Homo sapiens: one gene and its partners. The main gene of each other region encodes a partner of the protein of the gene in region 3 in a complex. Each region holds a gene or a part of one and is shown on either strand. Other genes may lie near its edges.

Region 1 (5,111 bases), on a different chromosome or scaffold from region 3:
CACTATTGAACATGGCAGTTCTCTTAAAGAAGCCTTTAGCTAGCTTTAGCTAATTCCGGATTAACTTTATATACATATTGTTTGAGGATTGCCCATGTCTTTTTATTTGGGATCGTAGTCTTTGCTTATGTAAAGGTAGATCTTAACATCATGCTATAAATAGAAAAATTAACGTATAGGAATAGATAGGCATTCCAGAGTGAAAGTTAGTTGACTTTTAGATAGCCATGTGGCTACCCTTCAGCGTCTCCACTGAAAATGAGCTGGCTATAAGTCTGCTTTGCCTTTTGAGTGTTAGAGAGTCCTTAGTCAAAGGGCACAAAGAATTTCCCTTGGTTTGATTTGACCTGTGTGGCCAGCTCATCTGCGTCAAGAGGAACAAGAACATTTGCAGTTGGAATAAAGAAGATACTTGATTACGTTTAGAGTCTAACAGGCTGGGTTGGGAATGAGAGAGCAAATGTTGGGACTGCTGAGACTAGTGAAGCAGAAGCCAAAGGGAACTAATCCTGTGTGTCCTTGAAGGGGAATACTATGTATCACTCACTTCATGTGATCACACACATTAAATTATTTGAATTAAAGTCATTTCTTGCATCCCTTGTTCCTTCTTCCTATTCCACCAATTTTCTTGGAAGTATCACTATGATGTTGTGAGTGGATACAGGTATCTATGCTATAGGGCTCTTGTCCCAGCAAGGCCCCCCTAATGAATTTTTTATGCATTTAATAAATCTCATTTTTGGTTGCTTGTGGTTTAAAAATATTTTTGTTACATAATTATGTATTTTCATGGACACTCCTAAGATTATCTGTCTAAGACAATTATAAATAATTTATAATCCCAAGTACCTGGAAGGATAACACATAGCTCAAGAAAAGAGAGGAATCTTGATTATTTTGTATTTTCAAAGTTACAAAAGATATTGAGAAAACACAATACACAATTTATTTTTATTTTCATTTTTTTGCCTACAGCTTCTTTGTAAGGACGATGTTTAAGATCTCACTTGGAAATAGTTGCTTACTTACAGTAGATGAGGGGTGGCAGAGTCTGGAACTAGGGCAGCCAGTGGTCAGAAGGAGGGACCAGAGTAGTTCATGAGAGTAGCTGCAAGAGATGAGGAGCAAAGCATATTGTCCTGTGTAAGGGATAAGACAGGACTGAGTCTGACCCAAAGCAAACACAAGACAGAGTAGTAAGTGGCCCACCTGTGGGTAGCATAGGTACCAGGCTTTTCTGGGTTTGTGGTCCTGAAAAGGCAGAATACCCAAGGTGCCAGTACAATTTAAAGAGCAAACTAGCAGAGTGGAAATTTGACAGAAAGCCATTTGAAGTATCTACAGCACCTAGAACTTACTTGGGAATGAAATGGGGGTCCTGTTATTAGAAGTTAAGAAACCATGGCAGGGTTGTGTAAAAGCAAAGGGATGCCTTGCTGCCATCAGGTGGGAATCCACCGGCTTTTGTTGCCAGGTACTAAGAAGACATGCAGAGACTAGACAACAGATACCAATGTCTGGAAACAATTCCCTTTCAAAGGAAGAGTCAACTCTTTGTATTTCTCCTAGAATATACAGTCGTGCACTGCATGACAGTGTTTAGGTCAATGACAGACTACATATATGATGGTGGTTCCATAAGATGATAATGGTGTATTTTTACTGTACCTTTTCTATGTTTAGAAATGTTTAGATATACAAGTACTTACCTTTCTGTTATAATTGCCTGCAGTATTCAGTACAGTAACATATGGTACAGGTTTTAGCCTAGGCTATACAAAATAGCCTAGATATCTACTCAGCTGTACCATCTAGGTTTGTGTAAGTACACTCTGATCTTTGGACCACGATGAAATTGCCAAATGATGCATTTCTCAGAATGTATCCTCATTGTTAAGCAGCCCATGATTGTACTGTTTCTCTACTAGAAATCCTATCTCTACATCCTGTCTCTATGAAGTCTCCTTGCCCTTCATCTCAGAAGTCCTCTCTCCCTCTTCTCAAATCACATTTATTTATACAAAGTGAATATCACTCATCTTATTCTGCCTTTTACTGGTGTACATGTCTTTTGTTGAGCACGGTACCATGTGCCAAGCACAATGTACATAATAGATGTTCAAGGCTGCAGTGAGCTATAATCATGCCACTGCACTCCAGCCTGGGTGACAGGCTTTCTTTTTTTTTTTCTAAAAAGAAGAAAATTGTGTGTGTGGGTATTTATATAGATATAATTACAAGTAATTTTTTCCTTCCAAATTTATTTCAGATTTTACCAAATGTTGCAAGAACTCTGGAGTTCTTATGGTAGTAAAATGCCGGAAAGAAAATTCTGCATTGAAAGAATGTCTAACTGCTTAGTAAGTAGTTGTCTCAGCGTTTGTGCTTGTATGTGTATTTGTGGTAGATAAGAGTATGTTACTTAACTCATTACATGTAATATATTCTGTACCTCTCCATACCAAATTTATCATATTGTTGGCTGAGTCTAAAGTTCCAGTACAGTCTTAAAAATGCAACATATTTATGAAAGAGTCTTTTCAAATTTTCTCAGCATTGTATCTGATTAAAAAGATGAAGTCAGCAGACAAAAATATATGATTTTTCACTATTTAATAAATCTTTTTTCATGAACAGTTTGATCTGTAAAATATAGTACAGACTGATTTTTGTTTATTCTGTTGTAAAGATAACTGAATGAAAATATCTCTGAGACTTCCTCCAGCCTTGTGATTTGTTGGATTAATATAATTTAACTCCTAGAAAGTTGAGATAAATCGTATGGATGATAAAAAGGTAAATTTAGATTTTTGAAGTTAACCAAATTTACTTTTAAAATAATTTTATAATATCGTGTTCACTAATATTTTGTTGTAGTTCCTTAAATTTAAGTAAAAATGTGTGAAGTTCTTTGAATTCACATGCTGATTTATTCACCCATGTTCTATTGCCCACATTATTGACAGATAAGATTGCAGAATACTTTAGTAAGTATTGTTAATTGAATGTTGAGAGATCTTAGTTTTGGTAAGCCTTTGTTTCCTTTAATTTCTGTAGCCTGTGCAGCGTATATGTCAGTATGGTATGTATCTTAGAGGATTAAATAAAAATGTAATGAACACCCGAACCCTACATTTTTTTTTAAATAAAATATGTACACATAAACTTATAGACCTTTTTTTAGAATGGTGGAGTTGGAAAAGACTTTAGAGATTATGTAAACTCATCTCTATATTTGCTATATTTGTAAATGATGAAACATAATCAATATTGATTTTTTTTCTTAAGTTAATAATATCAAAGCAGCCCTTATTTATGGTCCAGGTATTGTACTCAGTGCTTTACCATATAGGAGTAAAAGTTCATTCTGTGACTTAATATTCTTTCAGTTCTATTCTCAAGTGCTTCCAAGAAATGTTTACTGAGTAAACGAATCTCTTAAACTTTTGTATGACTGAATTATTAAATTCTGTCTTATACATTGATTAAATAATTTTTATATCTCAGATTCAGTCATCATAATTGTTATTGCTAGTTTGACATATTATCCTTCACTCCAGTTGGGGGAGCTCTAGAGCAGAGTAGACAGGAGTATAGACTGCAGAGAGGGCAACCTGGGTTCAGCTTCTGTATCAGTGAGAGCTTAGCTAGTCGTGTTACCTTAGGCAGGCTCCTCATTGTAAGAAGGAATAATTATATCTTATGGAGTGATTGTGAGGTACTGCATGTAAACACATTTACCATGATAGGTATTCAGAAAATGTTAGCTCTTTTTTGATTAGTATTTGTTATTATTTATCTGAATATTAATCATTTGAATATCCTTCCCTCTCTCACCCCCTAGAAATACAAGAAGAAAATAACAGATTCTAGTCCATCTGAGGGGAGGAGAGGGGCTAGGAAGGATGGCTGTTTCTGCTTGTTTAGAAGAGATAAGCAGTGGATGTGACATTAACTGAAAGTAAATGGAAAATTATTAGGGAAAATTGTACTTGACTTTGAGTCCCCAGATACACTAAGAAATAGTATTTATTCATCTTTAAATAAGAAGGTGTTCTGCTTTGTTAATTACTATTGACATTTCCATGAAATGAACGTAACTGCTATCCTCTCTCATTTTGAAACATTGTTTTTGCTCCTTTATTTCTACCTCTTACTTTCATTTTTTTCCTTAATACACTATGATCTGATTTCTGTCCTCACATCACTGAACCTGCTCTTTTTAAAGACTCTGATGGGCTGATGGTAGACAAATCCAACAAATTGTTCCTTTTCTTTTACTGGACCTGTCTCTGGCAATCCCTTCTTAAAAGTCTCCTCTGTCTTCCCTGATAATATTTTTTCCCATTTTCCCAAAATCTCTTTGTACTTCTCCATGTTTTTAATCTACTCCTTAATGTTGGTGATTCCCCAAGTTCTCTTCTCATTCTTAAATCTGAGGAAGTTTAGTTTGCACCCATGAATTCAATTACTTACTATAGAAAGTAACATTTGTTTCTTTGTTCAAGTCCAAAAATGAACTGGGCTCCTTTTGCTCGTCCTACAACGTGTCTTTGTGAATTATACAGTAGTCTAGTATCTACAGTCTTGTCTCCTAACTCTAATTGGTTATTTCCTATTGATTTCTGAAATTTCCTGCACATCATCTCTTCCTTTTCATTCCTACAGCTCCTCCTTTGGCCTGCGCCTTCCATCATTTTTGCCTGGATTATTTTAACAGTTTATTGGCTATCTTGCCTCTAACCTTGCTTGCCTCCTTTTGTCCTATCTGCCACATGTTGTCAGATTCATCCAAGACACAAAACTGATCTTACAGGTGAGGTGCTCTATTAATTGTGCCCCATTTTCTTCAGGATTGATTTTAATTTCTGAGTATAGCATAAATGGCACATCATGATTTGACTTTTGCCCATTCCATCTTCATTTCAGGCCTTTTCTCCTATGTGCATAATCTGCTATAGTGGTACCTATCTACTTGGCAGGTTTTCCTGCATTAATTTTTCCTCATCCATGTGTCTTCCCACACTTGCCTTCTATATGGATTTCTGTTGGTCTTTCAAAATACAACGCAAGCATTTCCCCTTGAAACCTCTGCCCTCCCCATTTCT
Region 2 (4,442 bases), on a different chromosome or scaffold from region 3:
GCCCTATTTATTTATTTATTTTCTTGAGACGGAGTCTTACTCTGTCACCCAGGCTGGAGTGCAGTGGCACAATCTCGGCTCACTGCAACCTCTGCTTCCTGGGTTCAAGCAATTCTCCTGCCTCAGCCTCCTGAGAAGCTGGGACTACAGGTGCCCGCCACCACGTCAAGCTAATTTTTGTATTTTTAGTAGAGACGGGGTTTCCCCATGTTGGCCAGGCTGGTCTCGAACTCCTGACCTCATGATCTGCCTGCCTCAGCCTCCCAAAGTGCTGGGATTTATGGCCTTTCAGTAAAACTTTATTTACAAAAATAGGCAGTGGGTGGACTGTGGGTGGCTGTAGTTTACTGACTCTGGGTCTTAGGCAATAAGAAAGAGTTTGGGAGTTGGGGGAGCATGTCACCATATGGACAGTTCTCTTCTTTACTATCTCTTACAGTAAACTAGATTTCTGTAAAAAATAATCTCTTTGTTATTAATGTCTTCAGATGGACCAGTGGCCATGGTTGGGTCAGCCGCAATGGGTGGCATTCTCCTAGCTTTAATTGAAGGAGCTGGTATCTTGTTGACAAGATTTGCCTCTGCACAGTTTCCCAATGGTGAGTCTTTTTGCTTAAAACTATAGCTCAAACATTTTGGAATGGTTTTCTGATGTTAAGAAAGAACATACTTTGTGTGATAAAATGTGTGGTATGTATTAATATGCTGTGGTTCATGAGGACTGTGATAATAGGTAAAAAATGAACATGTTATATTTAGCCACAAAAACAAAAATTTTTTGTATAAATTTGCTGTTGATCTTTCTTTATAGTACTTAGGGTTTATCAGTGCTCATGTCTTGCAAGAAATGTCTGATCATTTTAAAGGGACTTGAAGAATGGTTCTGCAGATGTATAACAATCATGATGGTCAATTGACAATTTAGTATTGTACATCTACATGCCAGACACTGTTTTAGGTAGTGAACAGGACAGTTCCTGCCCTCAAGGACTTACATTCTGGTAGGGGGAGACAGACTAACACATTAACAGATAAATTAGCTTATTTTAGATAGTGTTGCTTGTTTTGAAGAAGAGAATAGTGGAAAGTGACTCATATTTGGGAAGGTCACTTTAGGGTTCACAGTAGAAGTATCTTAGAAAATGTGTTAGCCCGGCTAATTTTTATATTGGTTTAATTTGTTGCCTGTTGTTCCTCCTATATGATGCATAGGGTAATAATTAAATTGTGGGCTGAATGATCATTACATGGTTATAGAATGTGCTCTCAGCTGATTAGCCAGGCATAATGGCTCACACCTATAGTCCTAGCTACTCAGGAGGCACGAGAATCAGTTGAACCTGGGAGGTGGAGGTTGCAGTGAGCCGAGATCACACCACTGCACTCTAGGCTGGTCGATGGAGCGAGACTCTGTCTCAAAATGAAACAAACAGAAAACTTCTATCAAGATGGTGCATTCCTGTAGTTCCAGCTACTCAGGAGGCCACTCACTTGACCCCAGGAGTTCAAGGCCAGCCTGGGCAACAGAGCAAGACCCCATCTCTTAAAAAAAAATTTCAGTGTCTAAATGAAAATATCCCTTGACAATGGAAGGATGCAAAAAGATATTGTGAGGTGGCCGGGCACGGTGGCTCACACCTGTAATCCCAGCATTTTGGGAGACTGAGGCAGGTGGATCACTTGAGGTCAGGAGTTTTGAGAGCAGCCTGGCCAACGTGGTGAAACCCCGTCTCTACTAAAAATACAAATTAGCAGGGCATGGTGGCACACGCCTGTAATCGCAGCTCCTTGGGAGGCTGAGGTACAAGAATCACTTGAACCTGGGAGGCAGAGATTGCAGTGAGCTGAGATCACACCATTGCACTCCAGCCTGGGCAACAGAGCAAGACTCCATCTCAAAAAATATATATATATATAACATATATATGTTATATATATGCTATATATGTTATATATTATATATGTTATATAATATGTATGTTATATGTTGTATATATGTTATGTATTATATATGTTATATATTATATATGTTGTATATTATATATGTTGTGTGTGTGTGTGTGTGTGTGTGTATATATATATAGTGAGGATAGTAGTAGTGAAAATTTGACCTGGCATTTGGGAAGGAAAAAAATACGTAGAATAGTGAGACATGTTGAAAATTATTTTTGGAGCTTGGAAAAGATTCAGCATAAAGTTAGGAATAGATCATACATCCCAATTTGCTTTGATTTCCCTGAGGCACCTAGCAAGAGATTCAGTATCTTTTTGGCACAATTTTCAAGTGCACTGCTCGTTAAATGGCAGTGAGTAATCTAGATGACCCTGCAGACCCTCTCACCTTCTGTTTGTTTTTCATTCCTTACTTCTGAGTTAACACTCTGTAGTGATGGTCACTTTCCAATTTTGTTTTGACTGCTTCAGTGTGAAAGACTTTACATAAAACATCAAAACAGTTCCATATTCACAGAAATTCAGAAATGGATATAGTTAACTTAAATAGTTACATTGTCTCATAGAAATTAGCCTTGAGTACTTTGTTTTAGGCTTTTTTCCTCAGAGGGAATCTCCTTTTTATTTATTTATTTTATTTATTTATTTATTTATTTTAATTTTTTTTGAAACAGAATCTCTGTGACCCCGGCTGGAGTGCAGTGGTGCAATCTCGGCTCACTGCAGCCTTGACCTCCTGGGCTCAGGCGATCCTCCCACCTCAGCCTCTTGAGCAGCTGGGACTATAGGTGTGCACCGCTATGCCCGGCTAATTTTTATATTTTTTGTAGAGATGAGGTCTCTGCCCAGGCTGATCCTAAACTCCTGGGCTCAAGCGATCCTCCCTGCCTCGGCCTCCCAAAGTGCTGGGATTACAGGGGTGAGCCACCGTGCCCAGCTGGAATCTCCTTTTTAGTAATTAAAACTCAGCATTTATATAGAAGCAGCCTAAAAGAGGTGTATTTATTTTTAGACAAGAGATGTGTTTCTGAAAAGCTGTGTAGGGGGGAAATCTTTGAAAACTTAATCATATTTTTCCAGTGAACTTACATGAAAAAGTTTGTCTTGTTTTGTTTTTGAGACAGAGTCTCGGTCTGTCGCCCAGGCTGGATTGCAGTGGTGCAATCTCAGCTTACTGCACCCTCCGCCTCCGGGGTGCAAGCGATTCTTCTGTCTCAGCCTCCTGAGTAGCTGGGACTACAGGTGCGCAACATCACACCTGGCTCATTTTTTTTTTGTATTTTTTAGTAGAGATGCAGTTTCACCATATTGGTCAGGCTGGTCTCGAACTCCTGACCTCGTGATCCGCCCGCCTTGACCTCCCAAAGTGCTGGGAATGTGAGCCATCGCGCCCAGCAAAAAAGTTTTTAAAACAGTGAAAAAAGGTTAGACAGAACTGTATGTAAATGGCAACAGTGGTTTTCATCGGCTTATCTTTTTTTGGGGTTTTTTTGTTTTTGTTTGTTTTTTTTTTTTTAGACAGACTTGCTCTGTCTCGCAGGCTGGAGTGCAATGGCGCGATCTCTTCTCACTGCAACCTCCACCTCCCAGGTTCAAGTGATTCTCCTGCCTCAGCTCCTGAGTAGTTGGGATTACAGACACCCTCCACCATGCCCAGCTAATTTTCATATTTTCAGTAGAGACGGGGTTTCGCCATGTTGTCCTGACCTCAGGTGATCTGCCCGCCTCAACCTCCCAAAGTGCTGAGATTACAGGCGAGAGCCACCGCACCCGGCCCCAGCTTATCTTTTTTACCCAGTATCTTCTCAAGTTTTCTGTAATTAACAGATAGTTGCATTTATAGTGAAGTAAAAATATATGAGTGAAACACTTTGAAAACTTCAGAGAATTCTGCCACTGCCCTCTTTCTCTCTTCCTTCCAGATATTTTTTAGTCTACTTCAGTTTTTCTTAAAGGAGAAAAGATTGATTCATCCCCTAAAAGTCTTTTTTTTTTTTTTAAGCCACTTTGTTTTACTTAGTTCACAGGCTCTCCTATCCTTTGAAAATGAAAACTGCAAGACTTTGTTCTACAGTAAGCTAGGGGGTGTCTTCCCATTTCAGAGCTCATTCCCTACTTAATTGGTTATATAAATTGGATTACCAAGTTCTCTTAAAACATGACTAGGATACTTATACTTTGTGAAAATAATTTTAAATAGCTACTGAAAAATATGACAAGAAGTGGGAGAAACTCTTCTAATCTTGATATATGGCAGCTTGTTACAGCAATTGCTTTAAAAACTTGAAGTTTGCTTCTTGCTATAATTAATCCGTCTGACTTTCCTAGCATAGTGTTTGAAAACTGTTCATTCTGGAGCATAGCAAGCCAGTCTGTCATATGTTATACCAAATTTGAAGGTTCTCCAGTACTCTTATGGGAATTAGGCAGATCTATAAAGAAATTTAGGGTTATAGCTTTAATTTAGCACATTTTTTTGTTGTTGATTG
Region 3 (5,111 bases):
GTTGAGTTTGCAGTTAACCACTGTCATTCTCCAGCACCTATTTGTGTTTTGTAAAGGAAGACTGGTAAATTACAAGGGACCGTGATGGGGATCGCCATGCCTGTATCTAAGGTCTCTAAGAATACTCTGCCATTCCCCATAGATGTGATATCATTTTTAATTTCCTATCTTGGTCACCGAAAGGGCAGCTTCAGGGGCTTCCATTTGACTTTTCCCACTGCGATGGCTCTTAACCCACTTCCAAAGGAACTAAAGTGGGAGTTATTGTTGCCAGTTACTCAGTACATCCCCTTGATTTATACATTTGGAAATCACAGAAATTATTGCCAGGTAAGTCCCTGGACCCACCTGTGAGCTTCTTACATCCGGTGATGGAGGGCGGTCAGGGGGTCATCATGACTCTTTGGGTCCTTGGGTATCACTGTCAGCACAGACTATGTCCAAGTTGATAACTGTAGGTCCTTTTGGTGAAGGACGGGGGGAGTCAGTTACATACGCTTTCCTTCAGTAAATGCGTTCCAGGTCTGAAAACTGGTTCAGGTCCAGAAACTGGGGCAATGTTCAGGACTTTGCATTAGAGCAGCTGCCTTCAGCCTCAGGAATCATCTGTAGTTAATTTCTCATGACTGTGTAATTCAGAAGTAGCCTTGTCCGCTGCCCTTGTGTCTTCCCTTTGGAAACACTGTGTTCTAGTCATCAACTCTGTTGCTTTCTGTAGGTCAGACACTCCCGACTGCCACTCCAGCCTTGCCATTAGTTATGATGGTTGCACCCACCTTGGCTTCTGTTTAACACCCCAGCCTGGTCTCTGCTTCATAATTCTTTCATCTCCATTTCTGTCAGGGCATCCTGCTCTATAAAGATGTAACTGTGGCTTCCTTGTGGCTTTGGTACACAGTGTCCTCCTGTCCCTCCTAAGAACATAGTCAGCTGGTGGGTTTTCGGGCTTTATATCTTATATCTATGGTAGCATCCCCATTCTTGGAGGCTGTTGAGCCTTTCGTCCAGTTTGCCATGGCTGTTCTGTCACTTTTACTTAATGTGGACCATCACTGTCTCGAAGTTTCCAGGAGCAGACCTAGCCAGCTGCATATCAGTTCCCAGGGTGCTTGCCTGGTTGCTAAATTCATCACAGGAGCGTGCCCCATGCTGATCAACTCTCAGCTGGTTTTGTGTTCTGTGCCCTTGACACACCACCCTTAAGAAGCAGTGGTGTCTATGTTCCCCCCCCCCCCGGGGGGACCTCCAGCTCCTTCCGAGTATTGTTCTTCTCACCCTTCTCATGCCCAGTCGTGTTGTAACTTGGCCAGGAGGGGAGGTGGAGAGCCCTCCTGAGAGCAGCACGTATCTTGCTAGGCAGAAACCCCCACCCACCCCTCGCCCAGTTTCCAAGGTGGAGGAAGTGCCAACCTTTACCAGACACTGAGCTGCTGCTTCAGGGCTAGAGGGGTCAGGAGAATTGGGATTCAAGATTTTTTACAACATTGACCTCAAGGGCCCCCTACCCAGCTTTAGGTTGCCTTTCCTCCCAAATCAGGACCCTGACCTTGGTGTGGGAGGTCTCATGGGCTTGAAATGCCAAACTCCCTGAATCCCTTCCGCCCCAGACCTCACCCACGCATTTTCTATCCTCTGGGTGCAATTTGAGTCTTGTTCTGCCGGGGAGGAGGCTCCTGCCCTTGGCACTCACCTTCACTGGTGATTAGTTACACACTTCATCTCACCATCCCTCTCCATGGCCCCAGCCACAGCCGTCTGATATAAGTCCTTAAAATTGCTGATTCCTCCTAAACTCCCAGAATAACACATCAGCCAGTACATTCCCTTCCGCCAGCATTCCATCCCAGGTCCCCATTGGTGAGAGCTGCATCAGCTGCACTACAGCTCTATGACAGGTGCTGTCAGTACCCCCCTACCACCAGGGACAGGGTCCTCATTGCCAGCCAGTGGCCGGCAAGCCAGCTCCAAAATCCAAATTGAGAGCTGCTTACCACTCCTGGTAGCACCCGTTGTAGGTTGGCTTCCCAGGGAAGTGGGATTTGCGTAAGGTTTATCAGGGAGTGCTCTCAGAATACGTCTTGAGGGATGAGGGAAGCAGGACTGGGCAGAGGGAGAGGCCGAAGTGCATTTGCAGTTGGGGCCTCAGCTGCTGCTCTGGGGACTTCTGGAGCTGAGCTGGCCAGTCACTGTCCTACCTAATATGGGGGCTGAGTCTTATGCTTCTGCATCAACCAGGCATTGAATATGGGCTGGTCCAGGGAAGTGCCGTGACCTAAGTGAGGAAGCTCTCTTATGATGGAATGCCCAGAGAGGAGCTCAGCTGACAACTGTCCGCTACCAGTGCTCCCTGCAGCTGGGAGCCCCATACCACAGCACCCACTATAGGAGGGGTAGAGAATTGTGGAAGCAAATAAATGGCATGAGGGTTTTTTGCATACAAGTATTAGGTCTGATAGGGTTCAGAAAGTTAGACAGTGAGCAGCTTCCATTGGAGACAGCTATAAAGTAACAAACAGAAATTTTTCAAGTGTGTAGAATATGGAGAATATTTAGCACAGGGCTTTATATATAACAGATATACAGGAGCTGTTGTTTATCAAATAAATGGAAAAGACCTGTCAGATACCCTAAGCAAGGTAGGAATGAATTGTTGGAAGGGACAGTCAGAAGTCCAGGGTGTTGGGGCCAATGACCCGGTTTGGGTAACAAGGACAAATAAGGATACTTACTAGAACTAGTTAGTTGTTATTGTATTCTCAACCTGGGAGTTGATACATAACTGGCAGGTAATATTTATTGAAATGTATTTTGTGACACTGAGAGTGGAATGAGATGTCGTCATTGTAGGCCCCAACTCCTGAACCTTGGAAGGGAAATTGGATTTGTGACAATTGTTTGAGTCAGTCCCATGAATTACACAGATTTTGGCAGATGAGGTCTTTTTATTATTTGAATAATGTCTTCTAAGTTGGGAACCTTGCTGAAAACTTGAAGGATTGTGATACGCTAAAGACTACTTTTAAACAAGCGTTGTATTAGCTAAATACTTCTTTTAAACAATGTTGTTTATAAACATAATAGAAGCTTTTTATACAGAAGAGAAAATAACAGCAACATCTATTAAAATTTTCTTCCAAAAGTTTTTTTCTTAAAAATTTTTTAAAGATTTATATTTCAGAAGTCTGAATGGCTAATGTGGTGAATAAATTAGTCTATAAACATAATGCCAGGAGGTGACTCACTTTCTCAGCATCAGTGAAAAGCATAGTCGTAATTGTAATGTTAAGGTAGTGTAACTGTAATGTTATAGCTCTTTGCATATATATGAAGATACACATGGTAGATATACAGTAGCTGTTGGTAAGTGAAAAAATAGAAAGACTCACCTGATACGCTAAGCAAGGCAGGAATGAAATGTTGGGAGGGACAATCGGGAATCTAGGGTGATTGGGGTAATAGGGACAAATAAGCGTACTTGTATATGTATTTCTGTATAATACAAATACATTTATTTATAGCTATACATATGTATATATTCTGTCCCCTGACACTGTCTTTTTTTTTTTGGACGGAGTCTCGCTCTTTCGCCCAGGCCGTAGTGCAGTGGCGCTATCTTGGCTCACTGCAAGCTCCGCCTCCCGGGTTCACGCCATTCTCCTGCCTCAGCCTCTCGAGTAGCTGGGACTACAGGCGCCCGCCACTGCGCCCGGGTAATTTTTTGTATTTTTTGTAGAGACGGCGTTTCACCGTGTTAGCCAGGATGGTCTCGATCTCCTGACCTCGTGATCCGCCTGCCTCGGCCTCCCAAAGTGCTGGGATTACAGGCATGAGCCACCGCGCCTGGCCCCCTGACACTGTCTTGATTGAGTTTCTCTAGCTCTCAGAGTGTCTGTTTAACCCATATGCACATATTTTATTAGTGTGGGAAAACAAATGTCTGGTCTGTGCATTTTCTTCATTTTCTAAGTTTAATTCATAAATCTTTCTGGCCAACCATATTCCTACTCTGAACACAGTTCTGTTTTTATGCACCAGTCAGTGTGGGGTGGGACTGGCATTCGAGCTAGTTACTAACTGTTAAGAGTTGACACCCATTTTGGTCCATTCAGTCCCTTACCCATTTGGTTGACAAAAGCCAGCACTCTTCCTAATCTGGGAGTGTTGCCTAACCTACAGCAGTTGTGGACTGGATCACTTGTTAAAAGGATTTCTTCATCCTAAATTAAAACATAGATTCCCAAGCCCTGCTCTGAGAATTCTGCTGAGGCGCTGACACACAGGGAGTTTTCAAAACAGCTGCCCCTGAACACACACAGACCCCTTGCTTTGATCTGGAGGCTGCTTTTCTCTCGCAAGAAGTGCAAAAGCAGCAGACAAGCTTGCCTGCTCCCAGCCGGCACCCGTAACCCATTGGTGTTTTCTCTTCACAGTGAAAGAAGCCGGAAGAGATTTTACCTATTTAATAGTGGTGCTTTTTGGAATCAGCATTACAGGTTGCAAAAAACAGCAAGTATAAGCCCTTGAATATTTTTTAAACTGGACTTTTTATGTTGCCCTTGCTTCGCTTCATCTTTGTTTTCTGTGATTTCAGGTGGCTTGTTTTACACGATTTTCAAAGAACTTTTTTCTTCATCCAGTCCTAGCAAGATATATGGGAGAGCCTTAGAAAAATGCAGATCACATCCTGAGGTTAGTTCTCAAGATTGAGTTACATGAACTCTGATGAGGGGGAGAAAATGTCTGGGAGGAGGAAGTGGGCAGAATTCAAGAACCAGTTCTCACGCTAGTGAAATTCACATAATAATACATAATGGTCGAGTCATCATTACATTATTAGGTCTTTGCTCTTTAAGAGAACCCAAAAGTCAGTGTACAGATGTTTTCATGCTAATTGTACAAGACAGTCATTTTGCTGGTTGTTCATAGATACTAAATTTTTAGAATACACCAAAATATTGAACTCATGGTAAGTTTCTAGTCTTTTTAAAGCCTGATGCATGACCTCATGGTCATAATGTCATTGCTGACACTTACCGAAAATGTGTCCGTGCAAGCACTCTGCCCAGGGTCTCAGTGCATCATCTTTATTCAGTCTCACAAAAACCATTTGT
Region 4 (5,111 bases), on a different chromosome or scaffold from region 3:
AGAATATTTAATTTTTTTAACTCTTGAAACATTAATAAAAAATAATTACAAAATGGGCAAAGGATTTGAGTAGACATTTCTCTATGAAGATATACAGATGTCTAATAATGACATGAAAGCTGGTCAGTAACATTAATTAGAGAAATAAAACCACAATGAGATACCTCTTTACACCCACGGGGATCACTATAATCAAAAAGAAAATAATGAGTATTGTTGAGGATGTAGAGAAATTGGACCTCTGTACATTGCTGGTGGGAATGTAAAATGATACAGCTGCTTTTAGAAACAGTCTGGCAGTTTCTCAAAGTGTTAAAAATAGAGTTACCTTATGACTGGCAATTTCACTTGCGTATACTCCATACTCAAGAGAATTGAAAACCTCTGTGCACATAAGTTGTAAATGAATGTTGCTAGTAGCATTATTCATAATAACCAAAAAATGGAAACAAACCAAATGTTTATCCACTGATGAATGGATAAAAAAGTGTGGCATATCCATACAATGGAATATTATTTGGTAATAAAAAAAGAATTATTAAATTGTGCTACAATATAAATGAACCTTTAAAACTTCCTAAATGAAAGAAACCAGTCACAAGAGACCACATATTGTGTGGTTCCATTTATATGGAATGTCCAGAATAGGCAAATATATGGACAAGAAAGTAGATTAGTAGCTGCCAAGGGTTAGGAGTAAATGGGCAGTGACTGCTAATGGGTATGTGATTTTTTTGGGGGGTGATGAAGATGCTTTAAAATTTATTGTAGTCTTGGTTGCACGACTCTGAATATACTAAAAACCACTGAATTGTACGCTCTAAGTAAGTGGATTGTGTGATACATGAGATACAGATCAGTAACTCCATTTTCTCTCTCTCTTTTTTTTCTAAGAGACAAAGTCTCCCAGACTGGAGTTGCAGTAGCAGCATCATAGCTCACTGTAACCTCAAACTCCTAGGCTCAAGCGGTCCTTCTGCCTCATCCTCCCAGATAGCTAGGGCTGCAGATGAACACCACCATGCCTGGCTAATTCTTTTTTTTTTTACATTCTTTGTAGAGATGTGATCTGACTTGGTTGCCCAGGCTGGTCTCTTAACTCCTGGCCTCAAGTGGTCCTTCTGCCTTGGCCTCCCAAAGTGCTGGAATTACAGGCATGAGCCACCATGCCTGGCCTTTTTTTTTTTTTTTTTTTTTTTTTTTAAGCATTATGGTTGGAACCTTTTATTTCACAGTTGAATCACTAACGGCATCTGACAGCTGCTGCATTTCTTGTTTGCGTTAAGTGTTCAAATTGAAGCAAGTTGATGGTTCGGACCTTGCCAATTTAAAGCTTCATTATTTTTGAAATGTTTTTCAAATGTTATATTTTAACATTGGGTGTTCATTGATTTTTTTACTTTAAAAGTACTCCTTTGTCAGTTTACTCAAAATTTCAAAACTAGCTGCATGTATTTTGCTTTAATGTTGAATCTACACTTAGAGGTTGTACTCTAGATCTAGTTAAAATTCAATATCATTGTGGCCCTGCATTGCTAGGTGGGGCTTATTAAGGTTAGACATAAAATATTTCATATCCCCCCAAAAACTTGTGAATTCATTCTTCATCATGAACATTTAATCTTCCATTGGAATTCTAGAGGGACTTCAGACTTTAAAAAGTGTTTTATAAACCTCATCTGTTATTGGAAATAATTCTGGAGACCTTAAATTTAAAGATAATAGAAATTACATTTTGTAAAACTTTTATTTATACTTTTGAAGGTTAGAGACATCTTAAAGAAAATAGTACCTGTCAACTCACCATGTCGTGACTTTGGCAACAACTTTTTTTTTTTCTTGTTTAATAGTAGACACAGGGTCTCACTGTGTTGTCCAGGCTGGTCTGGAACTCCTGGGTTCAAGCAGTCCTCCCACCTTGGCCTCCCAAAGTGCTGGGATTACAAGCGTGAGCTACTGTGCCTAGCCAACTTTTATCTGATACAGTATTGTAGTTTCTCTTACTAATGCTTTTGTATTGTCACTACTCTTGTATCCTTATTGATTTTTTTTTTTAAATTGTGTCAAGTAATAAATTTTTTTGTTAGCCCAGGTGAACATCTGGTACAAAAATAAGGAAAATTTAAATATTTTTAACATCCATAGTGTTAAACACGCAAAATTATAAATTAAAAAAGTTTTTTCTTTTCCCCCAGCAAGTACATTGATACCCATTCTTGGATTTATCTTCCATGTCAGCAAGCTCTGGTACTTGGGATTTTAGTAATACTAGTGTCCTGGAGTGTCAGCAGAACAGGTTTAACAAGAGGTTTTTAGTAAATCTTCTATACATTCAATATATTAACATACTTTGATAACAACCTTGTTTGTGTGTGAATTGATGGACGTTTGCTTGCAACCCTTGTTATATTTTTCAGTTGATACTAGCAGGAGAATGAGTTGGTGCTAACGTGCACTTTTGCTTGCTTGATAATGTTCATCACAGCCTTTTTTTTTTTTTTAAGTTTTCTTTTCTTTTTTTTTTTTGGAGATGGAGTCTCGCTCTGTCACCCAGGCTGGAGTGCAGTGGCGTGATCTCAGCTCACTGCAACCTCCACCCCCGGGTTCAAGCAATTCTCCTGCCTCAGCCTCCCAAGTAGCTGGGACTACAGGCGCACACTGCCACGCCCAGCTAATTTTTTGTATTTTAGTAGAGACGGGGTTTCACCATGTTGCCCAGGGTGGCCTCGAACTCCTGAGCTCTGGCAGTCCACCCGACTCGGCTTCCCAAAGCGCTGAGATTACAGGCGGGAGGCACCGTGCCTGGCCAAGTTTTCTATTCTTAATTAGTAATCTGTTTCTGTATTGAAGGATAATTTTTTTTTTCTTCTCAGCAACCATGGCCTGAGACTGAAGAATAATTATTTACCTTACCACATTGAATCTAGCATTTCTAAAAACTCAAACAAAAAGCAGTTTAATACTAAGTCATTATTTAAAAGTTGAAGTACCCAAAATTTATAAAACTCTATACAATTATATTATGACATGGGATCTATTCAGATTTTATTATTGCCCAACAGACCATTCTTATGTGATGAGAGTGGATGTGTTTGTTTACTTTTGCAATTTTTGGTGAGGATGTGTGCACATGCCAGAAAGAAAAAACCAAGGCAGAACCACAGTTTTCTGATTAGGAATACAATTTTCTGAATCAACGTTCAGTATTTGCCACAAGGATGTAGGAGAATGTTAATTGTCAGTGGTCTTTACTATGTTAAATGTAACACACTATGTGTCTTTTTGCCAAGGGTGTGACCTAGCCATTAGAGGCTTATTTTAACCATCTTTGGTTGGAAAGCTTGCCAAAAATGAGTGTGATTTTATTTTTTTAATCCAACATGGTGATAAAATTTTGTTTGTTTTTTTGAGTGTGTTTTTCATAAAGGTGCATTGACTCTTCAAAATTGGTAACCATATTTTGCTCTTAAGAGTGTCATTTCTCAGTCTTAGTATTTTGGATGACCTTCCAGGGGTTCATGCCACATTTTGTGTATGCAATTACTAGAAATAGGGTCTATAGCTTTCTGAGAGTATCAAAGGAATATATACTCCTTAAACAGATAAGAATTATTAAAGGGGGTCATTTGCCCTTGCATAATTGATCCAAACTGTTGTACTTTATTAGTTTTTGCTCATGTTTGTGAACATTTGGCTTTATACATAGAAAAATGCACAATAAATAGCTGCTACAGAATGAAAGTTATTTGTTTCTTCCAGACTGATTGTCTGTTCTGTTCTTCTCATAGCTTTCAGTGTTCCTTTCTCTAGAGCTGTCCTTTCTAAACACTTTTGCACAAATCTATCAGATTTACGTTTTGAAGGAAACAAAGTCTTTAATGAGACTCCCTTCTAAGAACTATGTTTCGTATTTCATTTCACTTTGATTTAGGTGTTACTGCTGCAGAAAGTTTTATTTTTGTTTAAGTATAGGTTTGAGTTAATTTAAGGTTTATTTTCTGTGAAAAACTACTTTGAAATGTTAAAAAGGCAACTTTACAAGATTTGTGTCTTGAGGGACACTCAGCTTGGTTTTCATTATTATCCTTTTAGGATACAGATGAGTTTATTTTACCTACCGGAGCTAATAAAACCCGGGGCAGATTTGAGCTGGCCTTCTTTACGATTGGAGGATGTTGCATGACAGGTGAGTGTTACATACTTTTTTCTCAAGAGTGCTCAGTTCAAGTAGTTGAGGGTGCGTAAAATCAAAAGCAATTAGAATGTTGGTTTCAGGGTTTTTTTTTTAATATTTACATTTGTCTTTTTCTATTAAATAAAAATGAAAAAGAATCAGAAGTGTAGTTATGCAGATTTGAGTTTGTTTTTTTAATATAAAGCTGTCTTTATCTGGGTGAATTGTTATGATTTACCAGGGGCTGCGTTTGGTGCAATGAATGGTCTTCGGCTAGGATTGAAGGAAACCCAGAACATGGCCTGGTCCAAACCAAGAAATGTACAGTAAGTCTCTTGTAACCATCTGATGTAGTGATACTTGAATATTAAGCTCTGTTGTATTGGTTTGATGAGTACAACCTTGAGATTACAGATGGTTAGCATAGTTATGTGCTTTTTTGTCTTTGTTTTTTAATCTTAATCAAAATAAAAGCAACTAAGGAATCAGATTACTGACTCTAAGCTTTTAAAAAGGAGTGATTTTTTTAATCAGTGTCCCTCAGTCAGCTAGTGCTATGCCAGCCTGACTTCTCAGCTGCACCTGTTACATTCTCCAACCCTATGTGACTTGCTTTTCAAATTGTTGAGTTGCTAATGGGAATTTTGGATTGTTTGGGGGCATGCAGATCCATAGGAAATGGTAATGAAGAATAAGCAGCTCATGAGAGTGATGGCTCAAGCTGCCATCATTTAACTTGAAGTTCTTACTGTCTTGACTTTATGTTTCCGAAATGATGAGCCAGATACATTTTAAATAAAATTTTTAGAATTAGAGTTAATTCCAAAAGGATAAGACACAGTTTTCTGTTAGAACTTGAAGTTACAGAGAAGGGAAAGTACAGTTAAAAGGATCGGAAAGTATGTTTTCACCCAACTTAAGAAGTAAACATGGCCAG

Evidence for each region. Proteins that work in one complex are often made in the same cells at the same time.
Region 1: TIMM21 (region 3) and CMC1 share a complex: the UniProt entries of both Homo sapiens proteins name them as parts of the MITRAC (mitochondrial translation regulation assembly intermediate of cytochrome c oxidase complex) complex.
Region 2: TIMM21 (region 3) and TIMM17A share a complex: the UniProt entries of both Homo sapiens proteins name them as parts of the TIM23 complex.
Region 4: TIMM21 (region 3) and TIMM23 share a complex: the UniProt entries of both Homo sapiens proteins name them as parts of the TIM23 complex.

The regions. Positions count from the first base shown.
Region 1 is NC_000003.12:28,314,061-28,319,171, forward strand, and holds part of CMC1 (COX assembly mitochondrial protein homolog), read left to right. Parts: intron 1-2,272; coding exon 2,273-2,363; intron 2,364-2,692; exon of another isoform or gene 2,693-2,799; intron 2,800-5,111. UniProt on the Homo sapiens protein: Component of the MITRAC (mitochondrial translation regulation assembly intermediate of cytochrome c oxidase complex) complex, that regulates cytochrome c oxidase assembly.
Region 2 is NC_000001.11:201,964,945-201,969,386, forward strand, and holds part of TIMM17A (mitochondrial import inner membrane translocase subunit Tim17-A), read left to right. Parts: intron 1-488; coding exon 489-599; intron 600-4,442. UniProt on the Homo sapiens protein: Essential component of the TIM23 complex, a complex that mediates the translocation of transit peptide-containing proteins across the mitochondrial inner membrane.
Region 3 is NC_000018.10:74,150,715-74,155,825, forward strand, and holds part of TIMM21 (mitochondrial import inner membrane translocase subunit Tim21 precursor), read left to right. Parts: intron 1-4,430; coding exon 4,431-4,493; coding exon of another isoform or gene 4,494-4,510; intron 4,511-4,591; coding exon 4,592-4,689; intron 4,690-5,111. UniProt on the Homo sapiens protein: Participates in the translocation of transit peptide-containing proteins across the mitochondrial inner membrane.
Region 4 is NC_000010.11:45,978,431-45,983,541, forward strand, and holds part of TIMM23 (mitochondrial import inner membrane translocase subunit Tim23), read left to right. Parts: intron 1-4,092; coding exon 4,093-4,186; intron 4,187-4,415; coding exon 4,416-4,500; intron 4,501-5,111. UniProt on the Homo sapiens protein: Essential component of the TIM23 complex, a complex that mediates the translocation of transit peptide-containing proteins across the mitochondrial inner membrane.